2 linked regions of the Homo sapiens genome follow. The protein of the gene in region 2 purifies or fractionates together with the protein of the main gene of each other region. This does not show direct contact. Each region holds a gene or a part of one and is shown on either strand. Other genes may lie near its edges.

Region 1 (3,819 bases), on a different chromosome or scaffold from region 2:
CACATGTTTCAGAGAGCACGGGGTTGGGGGTAAGGTTATAGATTAACAGCATCCCAAGGCAGAAGAATTTTTCTTAGTACAGAACAAAATGGAGTCTCCTATGTCTACTTCTTTCTACACAGACACAGTAACAATCTGATCTCTCTTTCTTTTCCCCACATTTCCCCCTTTTCTTTTTGACAAAACCGCCATCGTCATCATGGCCCATTCTCAATGGTCGCTGTCTCTTCGGAGCTGTTGGGTACACCTCCCAGATGGGGCGGCCGGGCAGAGGCGCTCCTCACTTCCCAGACGGGGCGGACAGTTTCTTTATTCATTTATTCACACAATCAATCATTCATTTACCATTTACTGAGTGCCTGCTATGTGCTAGTATATCTTAGGGGTATCTTGGTAACTAGATAGAAAAGATCCCCATCTCTCATGGAGCTGACATTCTGGGGGAAGCAGGGAGACAGACAAAAACCAAACCAACAAGAGACTATTGGGTAGTGATGAGTGCTATACTAAAAACAAAACGGGGAAGGGACTGAGTGATTGGGAGGCTCATTTAGACTGGGTGGTAAGAGAAGGCCTCTCAGAGGCGACACAGGCTGAGACCTAAACTCAGAAAGAACCAGCCATGCTAAGATATGGCAGAAAGGGTTTCAGACAAAGGAAACGGCCCTTAAAAGGCTACAAGGTGGGAATGAACCTGGCTGGGAAGAATGACTGGAAGGTTGTATGGAAGAGATAGGCAGGGGCCAGCTCATTCAGGGTATCAAGTTTACATTTTACTCTAAGTGGGAGGGGAAGCTGTTGGGGTTTTCAGCTCAAAAGGGACATAACTTGTTTACATTTTTTAAAGCTCAACTTGGCTTTGGTGTCTGTGGCAAATCAACGGCAAATGGGAGCAAGGCAGGAAGCAGGGGGATACATCAGAAGTTGAATGCACTGGCCTAGACAAGAGATGGTGGTGGCTTGGTGTAGGGTGCTGGAGAGAACAAATAGGTTCACAACAGCTTTTGAAGACAGAACGGACAGGAACTGTTGACAGATTGGCTGGCTATAGGGAGCTAGGGAAAGTGAGGGATCAAGGATGTTCCCTAGGTTTTTGGCATCAACAACTCAGTAGATGACACTGCCATTCTGTTAGGATGGGGAAGACCAGGGAGGAGAGGTTTGAGGGAAGAGGAGGAATCAAGAGTTCTTTTTGGTCATGTTAGACAGAAATGACAAAAGAGGTAACTGGATATGAGTCTGGAGTCCAGGGAAAAGGTTAAGGCTAGAGGCAGAAACCTGGGAGTCTGAGACGTATTGATGGTATTTAAGCCATAGGATGGATGACGTTGCCCAGGAAGACTGCAGACAGAGAGTAACAGAAGGCCTTGGCTTAGCTGTGGGTACTCTCACGGTTTAAGATCAACAGAAGGGAAGGCATCACCCAAGAAGGATGAGGGGCCACCAGCGAGATAGGAGAGAGAAGTGTGGAGCCAGAAGCCAGAGAAGTGTGTCATGCAGCACAGTGGGCTCTGGAAAATGCTTCAGGAAGGTCAAGCGAGGTGAAAGCAGGGAAGTCTCCACTGGGTTTGGTAAAGTGGATGTGATCTATGACCTTGAAAAGAACAGTAACAGTTTCAGCAGAGGAGTGGGAAAGGAAGCCTGACCAAATGCCTCTAGATCTGTCTGAATGGGTATAAAAGGAGAGACTTAAGAATATTACTTACGAGCAGTTGGCAATTCTACAAAGAAGTGGACGTAGAGATTGTCATACTCATAGCCTTGGGCTGAAACTACGAGAGAAAACAGGAAGCTATTTTAGCTTTTTCTCCTACCACCCTTAGCACCCAACCCAATCCTGAGGGGCCTACACACCCTGAGAGCAAGTCTTTTGAGGGCCAGGAACCCTCTGCGTTTCCAGGAAAGACTCACCACTGAGTTTCCCAAGTACAGCAGACAAGGCCTCTACCAGAGTGGAGGAGACTATTCACAGCTCCATCTAGGCACGTGCCTAAGCATCAAGAGATCTATGCTAGCAAGACACTTACCGACCTCTCCATTTACAAAGAGCCGGAGGGCACCTGGGACAGTCTAAGGTGAAGAGAAGTGGGAAAGGATCAGCAGGCCTGGAGGGAATTGGCACTTCTCCTCCAGCCCCATCTACAAATCTGCAGACGACCTGCCACTAGGGGTCAGGCCCTGGGTGTCACTACTGCACTTTCTCCCCACCCTGACACTTCTCCACAGATCTGTTTCCTTCATTCCTAAGATTCACAATGTAGGGGGAAAGTACATAATTTAAATGGCAGTGAGGACAATGCACTATGGGAAATTATTCAAGCAACAGCAACTGTCCTGTGGTGTGCAATGGGAAGCCAGAACGCCCTCTTCCCTTTAGATGGCTGAGGTCAAGAAACCAGGGAGTTTTCTTTTTTAATTATTTGTGCATGTCTTATCTAACTTTTAAATACTGAATATCTGTTGCTTATGCAATATGGAAATAGTGAAGGTTAATTTTTCAGAGAAAGAGAGGGAGACCAGGAAGTAATTCTATCCTTGTTTCCAGGTCTAGAGATAGAACTCTTAGAATGAGAAAAGACAAAGAACAGCACAACAGAATAGCTGAACTAAACCACTTTCTTTTTTTTTCAGACAGGGTCTTGATCTGTTGTCCAGGCTGGAATGCAGTGGTGTGATCATAGCTCAATGCAAACTCAAACTTCTAGGCTCAAGCAATCCTGCTGCCTCAGCATCATGAGTAGCTGGGACTACAGGTATGTATCACCATGCCTTGCTAATTTTTTTTTTTTTTTTTGTAGGGATGTGGTCTCACTATGTTGCCCAGGCTGCTCTCAAACTCCTGGCTTCAAGTGATCCTCCCACCTTGGCCTCACAAAGTGCTGGGATTATAGTCATGCGCCACCGCATCAGGCCTATATTTTTTAAGAGCCAAAATATGTGACAAACAGAAATGGCACCCCTGCCTCTCTATGGGGTATTTTGAAAAAATATCCACATGAAAGGTGAAGAAGACATTTTTCATCCTTATATTTATTTTTTAAATTAATTATAAAGTAATACCTAAATACATTACAACTGATAAAAATTCAAAGCTACCTAAGTTTAGGGAATAAAAAGCAAAAATCCCTAATATATCCCTCTCACCACCCACTACCCTTCTACCACATCTAATCCCACCCTCCCCAGAGAAAGCCACCCACAGCATGTGCATAGCCTTTCAGACCTTTTTCTTAGCATTAACAGTTCTCTATCAACATGCAATGTTGCAAAACACATAACAAGGACTATATGTGCTATTCTTTGACTTCCTTTTCACACTGTAGAGTATACCTTTGGGCCTTTAAGAGAGGTAGTGTAACTCATCCACAGTCAGAATGCTCCGGCTAAACACAGCTCACAGTGCTGCAGGAAGCCAAGCTACTCACCATCTCAAAGTCGGTGCCTACGAGGCTGCTGAGATACTCCTTGTGCCGGCCATAAAGCTGAGGAAACAAACCAAACCAAAACTCAAGATGCAACCCAAGCTAGACCAAAGTTCAGTTCTGAATGGGAAGAAGAAAAGCAATAGTGGGAAGGGTCAGCAAGAGCTGGAGGCGTAAGCACCTGACTCACCGCCATTTTACCGTGAAGCAGAGGCCCTGGAGTCAGCTGGTCTGGGGCAGAATCCTGACTCTCGCCCTTACAAGCTATGCCACCTTGGGCAGACTACTTAGCTCCTCAATCTCGGTTTCCCCACTTATAAGGTGGTAATAAGTGTTCACCTCAAAGGGTTGTTGTAAAGACTAAAGGAAATAAGGTATGTAAAGTACCTAGCACAGA
Region 2 (4,361 bases):
ATTTTATTTTCTCAGAAACTCTATAATATAGCTATTAAATCCATGTTTTACAGGTAAGTCTACAAGAAGTTAAGTGATTCCATATTTAGTATCTTTTTTTTTTTTTTTTTGAGACAGAGTCTCACTCTGTTGCCCACTCGGGAGTGCAGTGGTGCCATCTCGGCTCACTGCAACCTCCACCTCCTAGGTTCAAGCGATTCTCCTGCCTCAGCCTCCCAAATAGGTGCCTGCCACCACATCCGGCTAATTTTTGTATTTTTTTTTACTAGAGATGGGGTTCACCATGTTGGCCAGGCTGGTCTCGAACTCCTGGCCACAAGTGATCCACCTGTCTCAGCCCCCCCAAAGTGCTGGGATTACAGGTGTGAGCCACCACTCCTGGCCCATGTTTAGGATTTATACCAATATTATTAACTTAGAAATAAGTTTCTAATAAATTATTCCACCCGAACTTAGGGTAACTGAATTTTAATGCTGATGTATTAAGCAGGTTCTTCCTGGGGTCTTTTGATTCTCAAGGGATCCTTCACTGAGGGTGGACTTCAAATTAATAGGAAGCAGGAAGGAGCCACTTGCACTGTTTTCTTGACTGGGGATGACACCTAAACCTTTCTGATTGCATTACTTGCCCTATTTATGACTGGTCTCCCTCATTGTAAAATAAAGACTTTGGATCACAGGAGTGGTTCTTGACCTTAATAAGTCCAGAGTGTTTATTACTTTTTTCCACCAATATTTATTGGTAAAATAAACCAGAAGGCATGTCTATTAAGTAATAAATAATGCTTTCAAATTTTAAGCTAATCAGTGAAACATATGTTAAAACATAATCATCCTTTGGGCTATTGAGATATTAACTATAATGATGAGCTTCCGTTATCACCTTGTGGACCTCTGGGGATGGAGCATCTTGAACGGAGAATCACTGGATTAAATAAAGAGATAAAACTCAAGTATTTTTTAACTTTAAACTTTGATGAAAACTCTCCGGTAAACTGGAATACTTTAGACAATTTCCAAATGACTAGAGACAAACATTAACTTTTTGCCTCAGAAACTCTGATATTTTAAATCAGTTTGTTTTTCTGGCCCACTTTTTTATAAAATGAGGAAACTAAGTCACAGAGGTTAAGTGACTTGCCTAAGATAAAAGAGGGCCAAACCAGGAGTAGAAACAACATCATTTACTCACACGGATTCTATACCCAATCCTGAGCCATGTGATCTGCTTCCTTCTGGCCTCCATGTCACATGGATTCAGGAAGAAATCTGAGTTCTAATAGTAATATTGGAGATGCAGGGAGAACTTCTTTATTCACGTATGTATTCCTTTCTTTTCTTTAAATAACTCTCACAATTTTGGTCAGTATTTTCAAGAAGAATGGTGTGTACACCCAGGGGAAGGCATATACATCATGATGTTGTTTTTGGAACTGACATATTATGAAAAAAAAAAGAGACTTACGTTTTCTGTCCACAGATGGACTTTTTATACCAGTTCTTACAAGTGCTGAAGTATTTCTTTTTGGTGCCCAAAATCTGTTGAAGGGCACAGACATTTGGGCTGGAGGATAGAGGGAAAGGAAAAAAGTTAATGTCCTAATAATGACTAGTTTTTCGTATCTAAAGATTGGTTGATAGAAGAAAATGTTGAGATGTGGATTTGATATCCAAAGACATGATTCTAGCCTTGCACAAATCTAATTATTGACACAATCCTACTGAATTGTTGAAAAACCGAAAGTCTACAGGAGGTGGCAGGGAGAGAGAGAAAAATTATACATTTCTGAGAGTAAAATACAAGCTTTTCAAAAAGTTAACCAACTAGGACTATTCAAACAGTATGAACGTAATTTTATTTCTATGTGCCTTATTACTTTTAATGGTAGATAATCTACTGACCCTTTTTAAACCAAGCATGTGCTCATTTGGAGGATGGCCATAACTTCAGGGCTCTCTGGAACAATGAGAGGTCAGAGAGCAAAAGAGACAAGGTTTATTATGTACACAGACACTATACTCTGTAATTTTCTAGGTAAGTAATCACAGAAGTAAATGTGCTAAAATTAACTTTGAAACAATATGGTTGCACAAAGGAGAATTTATCTTTTTGAATGGAAGTAACAGATCAGAACATCCTCTGTCACAATTTTAAGGTTCCCCTTCCCCTCTTAAAGGGACAGAAGTCTTTTTTCACTGTAAGTCAAAGAAGCTTGTGAACATTATGAAAATTCCTGTGAGGCATAGGAAGAAGTGCCAAGATCCGCTTAAAAAATTATAAATGGTTGGATAAGTTACAAAATTATGTGTAATTTTAAAAATGCTTAGTTGTAGTTGCATTAGTTCTATAAAATATAAATTACCTTTGCAAATTTTACAGAATTCAGAGTTTAAAAGTAACTTAAATGCTTCAAAGAATTCAGAGAACTAGTTACATTACCCAGTATTTAACCTTCATATGTAATTTAAATAAAATTTTCTCTAACATCATGTGAGATATTTCAATGCTGTTTGCATACATATGATAGTTCCTAACAATAGATTTTTTAATTTTGAAAACTCAATTTCAGATTTTTGGAAGAAAATAAAAACATAAATAAATGGAATTATAAAAGAATGCCCAGCTAAATTGTGTTAATTAGATTAGAATTATATAACATTTCATAAGAAAGCAATTATATTCAAGGTATTTAGAGAGCAATTAAGTCTTAAAGCTTAAAAGTGCATAGATAAATCACAGAATACTCACATTTTCCTTTTTTTCCTATTACTTTATAATAATTAGGAAAAAAAACCCTGAGGCATATATGAGAAACTTTATGCATACTTGAACATCTAACAAGCTGAGGAAAAAGAAAAATGGTTTATAAAACCAAACCACTCACTTACCCTTGGTCCCGACCCCTGATACGACTATGAGCCAAGATCTTGTCATAATGATTGTTGGCGTTTATAGGGTTAACAATAAGCAGCAATAGTAGAGAAAACATGGGTAAAAAGGGAATCATCTTGAGTCTCTCCGTTGCAGTTAGTCCCCGAAGAGAACTGGCAGTGGGCTTTGGAGAGCTCAGAATTTATATACATGTCAGAGTTGTGGGAGGGAACACTGCATCAACCTGAGAGTCTGAACTCTTTCCAGGAAGCATCGGCAACTTCAAATTGCCAGCTAAGATTTGTTTTGGTTAGTTATATTTAAGGAACACATTGAGCTACTTTTCCTTTTCATTATAAAGAAGGTACTTATTTTTAATCATATGAACAATTGACTCACTGCATGTTTAAGTCTCAGTTTTATTCCTTTGTATCTTAGAGGGTTTTTAAGAAAAATTCTTTTGTTGAGTTTTAAGAGATATTCTGCAATCCTTTCCAGAGTAGAATGTATAATGTCTGTGTGCTCAAGATTATTGTTAGGTGTTATTGCAGTTCACATCAGAACTGAAAGATTATTATTATTATTATTTTTACCAGAAAACAAAGGTAGATGCGAGTCTGACAATCACAAGGGGGTAAAGGCTGTTGATTAAAAACAAACTCTGGATAGATTTAAAACTTGTGTAAGATATGAAATAAGAATTCTAACTTGCTGAAGAACCATGTAGGAGAGTCCATATTTTCCTTGCTATCGTACAAAAAGGAGAGCTACCTCTCATTTCCTTTCTTTTTCAAATATCAAGGAACATATAGAGTTAACATAAATCTACTCTGACAAATTTCTCTAAGGTTTGAAATGAAGCAGAAAGGAAAAACATTTGTGCTTTATTGTTTTTCATGACACACTTTATGTGATGTTGAACATGTCTATGCAGCACATCTACTGATAACCACTGGTGAAAAGCAGCCAATATTGGAAGCAAGTGTTACGAATCTAGAGATAACTAGAACAATTAAATACATATTAGGAAACATGGACATTGCCAAAATGATTCTTCTGATTTTATCAAGAATAACTAAAGCCTTTCAATGTTACACTATGCAATCCCTAGCCAAAGGAATGTGCGTTCTTACTACTCCATGCATATGTCAAATGTTCAGAAAACTTTGGATAAAAGAAATCTGAATATCAGAGGGAAACAATGAGCTGAAATGGTAACCACAATCAGCTTCCTTGAATAAACAAGCTGCACACCATCCTAAAGTGTAATTCCAATCCATTTTGCTACAAGATGCTCCCTCTGTAATGTCATATCCATGTTCTTTTCCCACTGGTGAGGTAGAGAGATTTTGTCAGAATTCTCCTTGTTGTTCTATTGGGAAGGCTTTAGGGGAACTGGACTGAACTAGAGAGGATTCTGAGTATCCTGAGTTATGCTTAAACTCACTATGGGATATTAAAATATTCTACAACTTGCTGCTTAGTTTAT

What was found.
Region 1: the proteins of POSTN (region 2) and MKS1 purify together in Homo sapiens (affinity purification with mass spectrometry, with the first as the bait; one large-scale study listed by BioGRID). This does not show direct contact.

What each region holds. Positions count from the first base shown.
Region 1 is NC_000017.11:58,208,953-58,212,771, forward strand, and holds part of MKS1 (tectonic-like complex member MKS1), read right to left. Parts: intron 3,483-3,819; coding exon 3,426-3,482; intron 2,071-3,425; coding exon 2,028-2,070; intron 1,773-2,027; coding exon 1,707-1,772; intron 1-1,706. UniProt on the Homo sapiens protein: Component of the tectonic-like complex, a complex localized at the transition zone of primary cilia and acting as a barrier that prevents diffusion of transmembrane proteins between the cilia and plasma membranes.
Region 2 is NC_000013.11:37,595,719-37,600,079, forward strand, and holds the start of POSTN (periostin isoform 1 precursor), read right to left. Parts: upstream 3,051-4,361; 5' UTR 3,009-3,050; coding exon 2,890-3,008; intron 1,565-2,889; coding exon 1,466-1,564; intron 1-1,465. UniProt on the Homo sapiens protein: Induces cell attachment and spreading and plays a role in cell adhesion. Enhances incorporation of BMP1 in the fibronectin matrix of connective tissues, and subsequent proteolytic activation of lysyl oxidase LOX.